2 separate regions of the Homo sapiens genome follow, and region 1 is reported to be linked to region 2. The links are microRNA targets in miRTarBase. Many come from high-throughput screens and were not tested one by one. Region 2 holds a microRNA gene; the other region holds the end of a gene's coding sequence.
Evidence for each region. Region 2 holds the annotated microRNA hsa-miR-4668-5p (AGGGAAAAAAAAAAGGAUUUGUC, at 3,590-3,612, opposite strand). A microRNA usually pairs through its seed, bases 2 to 8, with sites in the 3' UTR of a target mRNA and lowers its output. Matches are read on the target gene's strand: a 7mer-m8 pairs with bases 2 to 8, a 7mer-A1 pairs with bases 2 to 7 and ends in A, and an 8mer does both.

Region 1 (7,109 bases), not on the chromosome of region 2:
TAACAGAGCGAGACCCTGTCTCGAAAACAACAACAAAAAAAGGAGTTATCTTTTTTGTTGTTCGTTTTTGAGACAGGGTTGCCCAGGCTGGAGTGCAGTGGTGCAATCATGGCTCACTGCATTCTCTAACTCCTGACTCAAGACATTCTCCTGCCACGGTCTCCCAAAGTGCTGGGATTACAGGCATGAGCCACCACGCCAAGCTCATTTTTCATAGTTTATAAACAGTCTGGAAAAAATAGGAAGAATTCTAGAGACTAAATATTCAAATTTCGGATACTAACATGTTGCATATATTTTCCTGTTCTATTAAAGGATATTGCTCTAAAAACAAGAGAAATCTTTACCAACCTAGCACCGTTTTCAGAAGTTTCGGCTGATGGAGAAAAGAGAGTCCTTAATTTGGAGGCGCTAAAGCAAAAACGATTTCCACCAGCAACAGAAAACTTCCTTTATCATCTAGCAGCAGCCGAACAAATGCTGAAAATCTGACTGTGTGACAGAACGTATCACTGATGACTGATAGAAAGCCCTCTTTCACTCTGATTACCCACTCACTACATGAAGTCCTGAAAATAACAGAGAAACTGTTATATCTTTTTAATGATTTATTTGCAAGTATTGAGATTTGACCTGAAAAACAATGAAACACATGAACACACTTCCGATTTTCTCCTCGCTGATTAGCTTCCTGCCTGCTGTCAGTGCTGGACGAAGTGCTATAACTACTTTATGTAACATTACAGAACAGCTAGAGGTCCTGGGGTAAGAGAAAAAAAGCACATCACAACAAATGTGAAAGCCTTCATTATTACACGTTCCAGTTTGTCTCGCTGTGTAGGCATAAGCTAATGGTTTATTTTCAGAAAGCTGCCTGAAACGTTGCTTTGTATTCTTCTAGGAAGAACTTTAATTCCTCCTGAGGAACTCTACTTTCTGAGCCAAACTGCTAATTTTCTGCGGAACTGTCTAGAAGATCATTCAAGAGACCCTGCAGTTGCACTTTCTCGTAAAAGTTAAAAAAAAAAAAAAAAAAAAAAGGTTTTTCCCGGCCTTTGAACATTTTGCCTATGAGAGTTTTGCATATATTTTATACTTGAGTAGACAACTTTAATAATCCATATTTATACTATCGCAGAAGTAAGCATTTGGCAAACGTTCAGCCATTAGCACTCATTTAACCCTGTTAGCAATATTCTTTTGAAAAAAGTGCCAGTCCTTATGTGATAAACTAAGAAGCCCATTGAATATAAAAGTGTGTAGGACTGAAACAGTGACCTTATATTATTGCTAAGGGAATATGAGATTAACTTCCTACAGGGGCCAAAACCAGAGAAAGGCTTCCAGCAACTTCGATGAAAGTAGTTTGGCCACATGTCAAGCCAATTGTTTGTACTATTTATGTACCTTTTTCATAACTGGAATTGCCAAATAAGCATGGAGATCTAAATGATGTACTTGTTAGTGTATTCATTCATATTGACTGTAAAGGATTATTTTTCACTCAGTACTGATGTCCTTGGAAATCTTACCTGGAAACATGTTTGCAAAAAACATTATTGGGTCTTTCATCTTTTTCTTGGTATTACATATTTGTTCAATAAAAATTAAACACCCTCCCTTTTTTTTGAGTGAGGGCAGGGAGTACCTGAAATAAGACAATGTTTACTAAGGCAAATAATTGAAAATTAAATCTGCACTTTATGGAAATGAGGAATATTAACATCTTTTTTCTCATTTTTTTGTATTACTATATTAGCTAATGATCAAAGTTGTTAAAATTATAAATTTATGATGCAGAAATAAAATTGATATATTTTGATATTCAACTACTTTTAGGTGGGTGACGAATTGTCCCCTCTTTCTCTAATACTGCTCATTCCAAAGAAAATGGGGAAAAAATACCTTTTTTCAACTGTGAGGGCGCTAGGGAATTATTAAAAGACCTGTCTGAAAGTTCAAGACGGCCAAGGGCGCGGTGGCTCATGCCTGTAATGCCAGCACTTTGGGAGGCCGAGGTGGGCGGATCACCTGAGATCAGGAGTTTGAGACTAGCCTGGCCAACGTGGTAAAACCCCATCTCTACTAAAAGTACAAAAATTAGCTGGGTGTGGTGGCACATGCCCGTAATCCCAGCTACTTGCTATTTGGGAGGCTGAGGCAGGAGAATTGCTCGAACCAGGGAGGCGGAGGTTGCAGTGAGCCGAGACTGCACCATTGCACTCCAGCCTGGACAAAAGAGCGAGACTTGGTTTCAAAAAAAAAAAAAAAAAAAAGTTCAAGCCGTCCCCCACACACCCTTTCCTCCCGCCCTAGCCCTCCTCCACTCGCCTTCCTGGAGCTGCCTCTGTAACTTCAGTCTCCTGTCCTTGGAAGATGCCTTCACATTTCTGTCATCTGTTAGCGGTTAAACCTCCACCTGCAGCTGTTGCCCATCTTGTTCTCTAACTTTAATTTTGGTTAGTGTCAGCCTATGGTCAAACTGAGCCATTTACTGATTTTGTCCTTTTAGGCTGTTATGAAACTTTCCTCACCAAATTTGGAAATGAACCATCATACTGGCCTTGGGGAAACAAAACCACAGATAAATTCTTTGGTAATGTGGGGTAGGGTGTGTTGGAAGCATTAGTCCAGTACTCAAATGTTGAGGTACCTACTCTGTGCCATGCCTGTGTTGTATTTTGAACTACCCTGATGGGCAGCAGCTCCCGCTCTCGCGGTGCTGCGCACAGTCCGCTTGGGGAATAGGGTCAGCAAACAGGCTGCTGTAGTGTGGCTAGTGCTAGGCGTGATGTGTGAAACAGAGTGGTATTGGAGCACATAGATGGGGACCCAGTTCAGTGCTGTCAATCCTGGAAGGCCTCCCAGAGGGAGTGATCAATGTCAAAGTCAGGCCTGAAGCATTAAGTAGACATCTACTCAGACCAGAGGAAACAGCTGTGTGAAGGCCCTGAGAAGAGACCACAGCCCATGTGAGGACCTGGAGGGTCTACAGGGAGGGGAGGGAGTGGCAGGATACGAGTATGGGAAAGGCTTGCTGTGGTGAGGAAGGTGGGCTTGATCTTGACGCACTGGGAAGCCATTTAAGGCTTTTCAGGCCCGGTGCGGTGCTCAGGCCTGTAATCCCAGCACTTAAAGAGGCCAAGGTGGGTGGATCGCGGGGACAGGAGATGACAGCCTGGCCAACATGGTGAAACCCCATCTCTACTTAAAAAAAGCAAAACAAAAATTAGCTGGACGTGGTGGCTGGTACATGCCTGTAGTCCCAGCTACTCAGGAGGCTGAGGCACAAGAATCACTTGAACCCAGGAGGTGGAGGTTGCAGTGAGCCAAGATCGCGCCACTGCACTCTACACTCCAGCCTGGGTGACAGAGTGAGACTCCGTCTCAAAAGAAAAAAAAACAGTTGTTCAGCAGGTGTGGTTTAGAAGAGCAGGCTGGAACGTGGACCGGAGGGAGTAGGCAGGAGATGGGCCAGGCAGTGCCAGCAGGGGATGCTGTTGGACTGCGCTGGGTGGTAGCAGTGGGCATATGTGGGTTCCAGACTCCATGTACTGGGCCCTGTCTACTGCATAGGCTGGTAAGGTGGGGAGAGGGCGCCTCCAGTGATCCTGTCTGGTGCACCTGGGGAGGTGGTGGTGTCAATTCCTGAGACTGGGAGGGAGAGCTGATCTCAGGTTCGGATGGGTTGAGTTTGAGGTGTCTGGGACATCCAAATGGCAAAGTACAGCCAAGTAAGCAGCTCAGTGACCAGCCTGAGTGCCCAGCAGTGTGGCAGTGCCACATTCAGGTGGGTCACGGATGAGAGAAATCTTAGCAGAACGGGAGGTGGGGTGGAGACAGTGAGGGCGGACAACTCTTTTAAAGTGTCTGGCTACAGCCAGGCGTGGTGACAGGCGCCTGTAGTCCCAGCCACTCAGGAGGCTGAGGCAGGTGGGTCCTCATTGAGCCCAGGAGTTCAAGGCTGCAGTGAGCTGATTGTGCCAGTGCACTCCAACCTGGGTGACAGCAAGATCCTGTCTCTAATGAGGCAGGTGACAAGCAGTTTATTTCTTTTTGAGACACAGTCGTTCTATTGCCTAGGCTGGAGTGCAATGGCATGACGTCAGCTCACTGCAACCTCCGCCACCAGGGTTCAAGTGATTCTCCTGCCTCAGCCTCCTGAGTGGCTTGGACTACAGGTGCGCAACACCACGCCTGGCTGATTTTTATATTTTTAGTAGACACGGGGTTTTACCATGTTGGCCAGGCTGGTCTCGAACTCCTGACCTCAGGTGATCCACTGACCTCAGGCGATCCACTGACCTCAGGCGATCCACTGGCCTCAGCCTCCCAAAGTGCTGGGATTACAGGCGTGAGCCACCGCGCCTGGCCGACAAGTAGTTTACATACTTCTGGGAAGGACCTGGCAGACAGAGGCTACAGAGCACAGCCCTGAGGAAGCAGAGAGAGGCCCAGAGCCTGGAGGACGCTGGCATTACACGGAGGAAGGATGGGTGTGGGTGCGGGTGTGGGGGGCTCCACTGCTGACCTGTTTCCTGGCGGAGGAGGCAGGGTCCTTTGCCAGAGAGGAGAAAGGAGGCACTGGGCGGAGGGCGGCAAAGGTTTTAAGTAGCTGTCTAGAATGGAGGACACTGAGTAAGGAAACAAGATTGCTTTTGGGGTTGGAGGGCGTAAACAGCGCCCCAGGGGTACGTGTTCCGCTTGAGACGGCCTATCCATTTAACACCTGTGTCCTGGGCACGGTGGACTCTGTGTTCTTTCTTCAAATCCTCAACTTGAGACAGGTTTATTAGTTAATTAGTGATTTCACAGTATCCTTTCGCAGGCCGATCCCCACTCCAACCGTTCCCTCAGCAACCCCAGGGGTGTCAGACGGGGCACCCTCCCACTGTCTTCTCCAGCCAGCCTTAAAAACCCCAGAGACGCCAGCCTGGGAACGATCTCAGTATGGAATCTGAAGTCGCCTTGTCAGCACAGACACCTCTGGGGTCCCCAGAAGACCTGTGGCAAAGTTCTCTAAACCGAACCTGGAGAGGGGAAGGTTTTCAAGCAGGAACCACATAAATTCACCTAAAACTCACGCCTACACCCCTCTGTGATAAAAGATTTCTGTTTCTTCTGTTGGAGACTGAATTTTCTCTTCAAGACTACAGTACTGTATCTGAAAAATAGTTAAATTCATAATGTTTCTATTAATAGTTTTTCTTGCCTTAGAAGCCAAGTTAAAAAAATCATTTTCTGAAAGCAACCATTTCACAGTCCATCTTTTTCAATAATGTCTAATCTATAGCAGAAAATGTAACCTATTTTTTTTTTTAATCACCCAAGCAGTAAAGAAACTTCTTAAACTTTTTTTTTTTTTTTTTTTTTGAGACAGAGTCTTGCTCTGTTGCGCAGGCTGGAGTGCAGTGGCACCATCTCAGGTCACTGCAACCTCCACCCTCCAAGTTCAAGTCATTCTCATGCCTCAGCCACCCGAGTAGCTGGGATTGGGATTACAGGCGCGCACCACCATCCTTGGCCCATTATTGTTATTTACTTATCTCTACATTTGTTTATAATTGAAAGTTTCCATTAAAAAGTTTTAAGATGGCTGGGCACAATGGCTCATGCCTGTAATCCCAACACTTAGGGAGGCTGAGGCAGGTAGATCACTTGAGGCCAGGAGTTCAAGACTAGCCCGGCTAACATGGTACAAAAAATACAAAAATTAGCTGGGTGTGGTGGCACACACCTGTAATCCCAGCTACTCCAGTGGCTGAGGCACGAGAATCACTTGAACCTGGGAGGTGGAGGTTACAGTGAGCCGAGATCAGGAGGATTGCTTGAGGTGGGGAGTTTGCAATCAGCCTGGGCAATATAGTGGGACCCTATCTCTACAAAAAATAAAAAATTAGCCAGGTGTGGTAGTACGTTCCTGTAGTCCCAGCTACTTGGGGGGCTGAGGTCAGAGGATCACTTGAGCCTGGGAGTCAAGGCTGCAGTAAGCCATGATCATACCACTGCCCTCCAGCCTGGGCAACAGAGTGAGAAACCCTGTCTCAAACACACAAACAAACAAAAAACAAATGTAGAAGGAATGTAATGAACTCACATGTGCTCACTCAGGAATCACTATTAACAATTTGCAGATCTCATTTCATCAAGCACCTCCCACACCCAGCAGTAGGATTTTTTTCCTTGAGTATTTTAAGGCAATTCTCATGTCATGTCACCTACAAGTTCCAAATGATAAAGACCTTATCATTATTGATATAGTACTTGATATAGTAATGACAGTAGTTACAAAACTACTATGTCATTGTCACACCTAACAAAATTAGTAATAACTCCTTATCTCATCTAAGCACCTCCATGCCCTCCTTGAGCCAACAGGATATTTTGTGTCTTTTTTTTTTTTTTTTTTAAATGAGATGGAGTCTCACTCTGTCACCCAGGCTGGAGTGCAGTGGCGCGACCTCGGCTCACTGCAAGCTCCGCCTCTGGGGTTCACGCCATTCTCCTGCCTCAACCTCCCGAGTAGCTGGGACTACAGGCACCCGCCACCACGTCCAGCTAATGTTTTGAATTTTTTTTTTTTTTTTTTTTTTTGATATGGAGTCTTGCTCTGTCGCCCAGACTGGAGTGCAGTGGCGCGATCTCGGCTCACCGCAAGCTCTGCCTCCAGGGTTCACACCATTCTCCTGCCTCAGCCTCTCGAGTAGCTGGGATTACAGGCGCCTGCCACCATGCCTGGCTAATTTTTTTGTATTTTTAGTAGAGACGGGGTTTCACTGTGTTAGCCAGGATGGTCTCAATCTCCTGACCTCGTGATCCGCCCGCCTCGGCCTCCCAAAGTGCTGGGATTACAGGCATGAGCCACCACGCCCGGCCCCAACAGGATATTTCCAAAGTCCAGCAAGCAAGTCTTGGCATCTGAGGTCACGCGTGAGACTGACTCCCTTTCCTGCCTCCACTCTGGCCTCTGGGAGTTCTGCCCCTTCCAACCTTGCATGACTTACCTGCTGCCCTGCTCCTTGGCCTGGCTGTGCAGGCCCTGCCACCTGGCCCCCAGCATCCTGCCTGTTCCTTGCAGCCTCACGTGCCCATTCAGCCCTTCCCATCCT
Region 2 (7,120 bases):
AATTACACCAAAATCTATGTGGGCAGGGCCCAGGGTGTGTGTGTGTGTTGTGTACAGGGCCCAGGGTGTGTGTGTGTGTTGTGTACAGGGCCCAGGGTGTGTGTTGTGTATTTTTTTTTTTTTTTACAAGTTCTCCAGGTGATTTTAACAGGCAACCAATGTAGAAAAGCCATACTTAAGTCACAGGACTGCCTATGTCCTTATTTATTTTACCTATGGCTCAGGTAAAAGGAAGATTTCAAAAGGAATACTTGACAGAACTCTTCTAATAATTCTGATGTGAATGGTGGAACATGCTACTTATAAAAATACAGAAGAACAAAAAATACACTATTGCTAACGTTTTGATTGTATTCAAATTTTTATTTTTTGAACAAAAATTTAAGACAATGATTTTAAATAATAAAACATGGTATATATTCTAGACACTGGTTTTTTTTAAAGATTTATTAAATTTAGACTCCTATAGTTCTGTTGTGATGCTTTCTTCAACATTTATATTATTTCTTACCATTTTATCATCACTCCAAGCTTGCTAAACAAAGAATCTCTCTGTTAAGTGAAGTTTTACATTAAGGAAATACTCCACTAGCACACTGAACAAACCTACAGAACTGTCCTAGTTTATATTTACAAAACACAAGAAGTCTGTCCAGCCATTTTGGTTTTGTTGTTACACTGTCCATACTGAGATCAGCAGAGAGCTAAGTAATACACAAGATTACGCTTCGGCAGTGCAAAGGATGGCATCAACCAAACTTCATTAAACAGACCAACAAGTACAAACATGGTGAGCAAAGTTCAACTCAGGTAATAGTGATTAAAAACAAAACATGTAGTGGGTCACAACCAGACTGGTTTTCACTGTGCAACTTTCCTCAGGGAATAATACCCATTCACAGAAAGAAAGGAATATGCATCCAAGCCTTTGTTCATAAAGAAAATGCCCTTCAAACAAATTCATCATAAGGCTAAAAAAAAAAAAAAAGAAAGAAAAAAGGATGAAGCAGTTTGGCCCAGAGAAAAGCTTAAATATAATGTGTATACATACTTATAGATATGTTGCCATTTAAACCATGGATATAGACATTTGACAATTAAATGAATTGGCTCAGTAAAGTGAAAAAGTGTTTTCTATAAATATGTAGTTATTGCTGATATGCTACACATTATGCTTTGACATGGAGACTGTAGTAACTCAGAATTTAAAGCTGCCATATTGCCAGTGTTAGCCCTGCAGTAGGCATTCCTGTGGACAACATGCCATCCAATCCTGAAGAAAAAGCAAAACACCACTACTTAACAAAGAAAAGGCTTATGCACTGTCCCTTACATTTTTGTTTTTTTTTTTTAAAAAAACAAAACAAAACAGAATCAAGTCCAGTTCACCACAAGTTAAGCACAACCTGGCGAGCAAGTTTAGCGGCATGATGGGGAGAAAACAGTGAGGTACAGCATGCATTTACAACCAGCGCTGATCTAGTCTATTTTGTCATATAAACTTGAATACAAAAATCCAATTTAAATAAGACTAGACTTACTATAATAGTAAACAAACAAAAACAAAAAACAAAAAAAAAAAACACACACAGTAGACTTAGTTTGATACTGATTAATTTTAAGAGTAAACTCATCCTGTCCCCTCTTAATACTCTACTGCAATTTATTGATGGCTAGAATATTTACTGACTTAAAAAAGGTATTAAATACTTGTATCATGAAATTACATTCTTATTAACAATAAGACATACTGTGTAAGAAAATAGCTCATGTGTGAAATGTGTCTGAAATGCATTTTTTCCTTACAACTATCAAAACATCCACTCACACTAAAATGAAACCACTCCCAACCCCCCCTGAAAAAATGTTAAGGGAAGACGGGGTGGGCTGGGGGAGGAGCAAGGAAGGAAAAGATTTAGCTATACTAATTACAGCACAGTGATTAACAATGGTTCAAGACAGAACCAACAAGAGTTGGTCAAAAAGATGCCTTCAATACATGGCTACAATTAAAAACCAAACTCAGCCGCTTTTGGTTCATTGCAGTGAGACCAAAAAAATTATCTCTCACAGATTCATATAAATACTAGACTCCAGCTCTTATATCATTTTTTTTTAAGTTTTTCTGTTTGTTTCTGCAAGGCCTAGCTATCTTATTACAATTTATATTTGCTCTGCAACAACTACAAGAGGTAGGCATAAAGCATGAAAAAGTTTCTCAGTTAGTACCTCGCCATGTGTTGTTCACTGCACAAAACCATTCACTTTGGACATGAATAGTCATTCCTTCTATTATCTTCTAAACTCTAAAGCAAAGCTGCTGCCACCCGTAAATGTTCTAAAAGAGTGTACTCACAAGTAAGAAACTTTCTCTACTGAAGGATACTGTCACAGAGTTTGTTGCAGAGCATCTATATATATATTTATTTATTTATTTTAAAAAAATAAACAACAATGATGAACGAACCCAGGTTCCTAGAACCAATTCTCTTGATTCTCTACTTCCACAAAATAAAGTGTATCATTTGGCCAAGACTACAGATGTGTTTTTTTTTTTTTTCACAGATGCAAGTGCCATGCAAAAATAAATTAAAGAACAGATACCAAAACATACATGTGATAAAACTACAGAAGGTAGATTTTTAAAAGCATTTATATAAACATAATTTATAATACTTCTCTTTTTTCCTTTATATACAGTCACAAAGCTGTAGTTATACATCTAGGATTTCCTCTGCTGTACCCCCACAGCGTAATCTGTAGCGACCAGTTCTCCAGCTTATAGTTGGGTCCCATAATGCAGACAAAAAAATGTATATTGTCATGGATTCGCGGATGAACCAGGCGACTGCATAATCAAGTTTTGAAAAACACAGTGTGCCACCCTAGGAATGGAAAAAAAAATTTTTTAATTTCACTCACTGTCAAACTAAAGACAAGGTTAAAAAATTAAATTCTTGGATTTCACTTTTCTAAGTATACTATGTAAAATCAAGTCTGCTTCCTTATGTAATTTAACTGCCATGTTATACCGTTCAAGAAAATGCTAATTGTTAATGAAGCATTAAAATAACTGCTATCTTAATGTCTTATTAGTTTCAATACTCACTGATTTAATTAACTTCATGTTTTTGGAAACTTAATAAAAGCGATTATATAACCAATAGAAAGTTGCAAATCGACTTAAGTTTTGCATCAACATTCCACTAGAGAAAGTCATGTTCAAACCCGAGACTAACCTACAATGGGAAGCTGAAGAATGGCTCAGATACATTTCCTTCAACTTTTTCTAAATTGAAATAGTTCTAGTTCCACCAAGGGACTGCCAACCTTTTCATGCCTATCCACATACCTGGACACCCCTGAGTTGAATGTAGTCAAATATAAACCATGCCAGGCAATGACACATGAAAAATACCATAATATCCCATCTGAACACATGGTGGGCTGCCCATCCAATAATTAAACTGGCAACAAAGCATTCTGAAATTGGCTCACAAATTATTGTAGCAGGAAGCATGTTAATTCGTAGTTTGGTCCACCTGGAAAAACAAAAAGGATTTTCTTTAAAACAATATCCTGGCTACAAGACAAATCCTTTTTTTTTTCCCTCAAATAATCAATTTTTTTACCCTGTGATAGAAAGACCATTCTCTTTAAACTTTTTTTGTTTTGTTTTTTTTTTTTTACTTGAGACGGGGTTCTGCTCTGTCACCCAGGCTGGAGTGCAGTGGCACTCACTGTAGCTTCAATCTCCCAGGCTCAAGCGATCTTCCCACCTCATCCCACCAAGTAGCTGGGACCACAGGTGTACACGCCACCACACCTGGCTAATTTTTGCATTTTTTGTAGAGACAGGGTTTCACCATTTTGCCCAGGCTGGTCTCAAACTCCTGGGCTCAAGCAGTCCTCTCGCCTTGGCCTCCCAAAGCGCTGGGATTACAGGTGTGAGCCACCACACACAACCTAAAAATTTTTTTTAATGACTCTCTTTTCTATTTTTGTCTAGGATGTCAAAGAAAAATGTCTTTAAATTCATTTGTATGGCCTACGCTCTGATGAATACAGATAATAAAATTTAATCAGCACAGAAAGTTAGAAAATAAAGATCAGCATATTAAAAAATTCAGTCTCAACATTTCTCTAATGAGTGCTTTCAGTGTTATACAGCAAATAAAATACATTTAGACATTAAATTTATCTTAAACACAGACGTTAAACTCTATTTTCTGCAACTAAACAAAAATCTTCAACCTTTAGGTACATTCATTTAACTACATTAAACCTGTAAAAATTACCACCCCCCTCCCCACTTTCCTTTTAACGAAGTATAAAAAGAAAACAGTTGATTTACCTGATCATTCTGGATTGAAACTGAGAAATTGAATATGAGCCAGAGTTTTGCATTGCAACTTGAGTGGACATTGCAAACCTCCAACCTCTGAAAATTAAGATAATTAGAAAATAAGTTATGATGATGAACACATGCAAGCGTAACTGGTTATGCATTCAGTAATCATTATAAAGACCAGGCAACTGCCGGTATTCAGGGTGAGCCCAGCTTTCATGATTAGCACATGACTTAAGGTCTACCATACGTATGGATGTTTTAGCAATTATGCTGGCCCGTGACAGCACCATCTAAGAACTAGAAGAAACTGTACCCACCTTACTTTACAATTTAAGAAACTTAAAATGCAGTCATTTTGAAAAAAAATGGAGAGGGCTCCATATTTAATAGATTAGTCTCTGATGACTACTAACCAAACAACAAGACATGTAAACAGAAAGTGGCATTATGGATCTCATGGGAGACACTAGGAAACCATGAACCACATGAACACAATCATGACAGAATTTGTATTTAAAACACACTTCAGTTTTTAAAAAATTTAAAAGAATTCTCACACAAGGCAGTGATCTCCTTTAAAAACAAGTATTTTAGGCTGGATGCAGTGGCTCATGCCTGTAATCCCAGCACTTTGGGAGGCTGAGGCGGGCGGATCACGAGGTCAGGAGTTCAAGACTAGCCTGGCCAACATGGTGAAACCCCGCCTCTACTAACATACAAAAAAAAGTAGCTGAGTGTGGCGGCGGGTGCCTATAATCCCAGCTACTTGGGAGGCTGAGGCAGGAGAATCGTTTGAACCCAGGAGGCGGAGACTGCAGTGAGCCGAGATTGCGCCACTGCACTCCAGCCTGGATGTCAGGGCGAGACTGTCTCAAAAAAAAAAAAAAAAACCAAAACAAAACAAGTATTTTGTGATAGAGAAATGCTAAGTCAGTCATATGAATCTTTCAGTGGCTTCTTAGCAAAGTATCATATAATTCACTGACAAATTTCAAATTTTGAAATGATAGTCTTTAAATTTTCACCTACTAGTTTATGACTGCACTGATAGTTTTAATTCTTCTAAAACACAGAAATTTGTATCTATATAGTAAAAATTCTAAACACAGAGAAACTTACTTTTAATCGCTTTAAAACACATTAATTTGAAAAATGTAGAGGAATCAGAACATTTACCTTCTTCATTAGTACATATCTACAATTCTATAATTAGAATATGAATTACTCTATAAAATTATTGATCTGCTGGGTGTGGTGGCTCATACCTGTAATCCCAGCACTTTAGGAGGCCGAGGTGGGCAGATCACTTGAGTTCAGGAGTTCAAGACCAGCCTGGCCAACATGAAGAAACCCCATCTCTACTAAAAATACAAAAATTAGTGTGCATGGTGGTACATGCCTGTAGTCCCAGGTGCTCTGGTGGCTGAGGCATGAGAATCACCTGAACCCGGGAGGCAGAGGCTACAGTGAGCCAAGATCGCGCCACTGCACTCCAGCCTAGGTGACAGAGCAAGACTCTGTCTCAAAAACAAACAAAATAATAAAATTATTGACCTATTCTGTACTTACTAGCAAAAAAAATAAAATTAAATTAAAAAGCCCTAATCTATAGGTTGAACAAAAAGAATAAACCAACAGAAGTTAGGTAATAAAAATACTATGGCTTCATTTAGTTGTCTTACCGGTCAGCTATCGCTTTGGCCATAAAGTAATCTTCGGCAATGTACTGAGCAAAAGCTATAAGTCCTCCTGCTTGATCCAACACATCTTTTCTCATTAAACAAGACATTCCTGTCACACATTTGAAACCAGTTACATTGGCAGAGATATAGTATCTTGGATGTGAAGTTCCAAAATATACCTGCCCAAAAAACCACAAACGTGTATGATTAGAATTTCATGTTAAAAGCATGGTGTTCACGAACTGTTTTTCCCAATGGTTTTTTTATAAGTATGATTGAGTGAATATCTTATTATTCTTACGTAGACTACCTGAATAAAAAGTGGTAGACAATATTGCTTTCATAGAGCAAGCACAGTTAGTAAGCTAAAAATGCATCCAAATAAAACTTAATTTAGATACAAAATAAGGTAAAAATATCACTCATTGATATATAAAATATTAACAAATATTCAATGTATCTTGTTTTTAGGGTGTTCATGTAAATATACACACACATCTACTTTACTGGGATCAATATACATATTTGTATGTTACGTATATGTGTGTATATATACATGCATGCATACACACACCACCCATAGGTATATCAACCTTCGGGACAATCCTATTTTTTTGGGGGGTGGGGGGTGGGGAGGGGACACAATCCTATTTCTTAATTCCTTTTCTTGCATCCTTTTGTAGCTAGCTGCTCCCTCTCCCTTAGTCACTAAGATTCTTCCCAATTTCTCCATTTTTTTCAATGTATTTTTCATAACGGGGATACTAAAATTCTCTCATCCGCTACTGCCATTTCTCTGCATATACTCTGAAGTCATAAGATATATACGCTGATAAATCAATGGTAGAAAAGGACTGTTATTACCCTACTTAGTAGACATAAAATCCTATTTATTATTTACACCTCAGATATGTTGCCTTTTCTAATTAGCCTGAAATAAAGAGTAGTCATCTTTCTTAGGAGTTACACACACAGTGCAGAGCAAGAGAATTCTAAGGGGCAATTATGATTATGATTCTTGCTACCTACCCTGAACCCAGACTCCAGTGAAGCCCTAGTGTTTGTGGGACTGAACTGAACCTGACTT

Region 1: miRTarBase lists DENND10 as a target of hsa-miR-4668-5p. Seed matches in the 3' UTR shown: 7mer-m8 at 1,044-1,050.

What each region holds. Positions count from the first base shown.
Region 1 is chr10:119,136,156-119,143,264 of GRCh38, forward strand. DENND10 (DENN domain containing 10) reads left to right here. Exons shown (of 9, transcript NM_207009.4): 9 at 316-1,829. The coding sequence ends at 492. SFXN4 (sideroflexin 4) reads right to left here. Exons shown (of 14, transcript NM_213649.2): 14 at 4,612-5,164. The coding sequence ends at 5,087. Among named protein-coding and RNA genes, the nearest start is that of SFXN4, 26 kb to the right of the region's middle. RefSeq lists an enhancer at 6,292-6,793.
Region 2 is chr9:111,928,592-111,935,711 of GRCh38, reverse strand. MIR4668 (microRNA 4668) reads right to left here and starts at 3,612; the gene lies at 3,543-3,612. UGCG (UDP-glucose ceramide glucosyltransferase) reads right to left here. Exons shown (of 9, transcript NM_003358.3): 6 at 6,034-6,212; 7 at 4,355-4,441; 8 at 3,353-3,542; 9 at 343-2,885. The coding sequence ends at 2,715.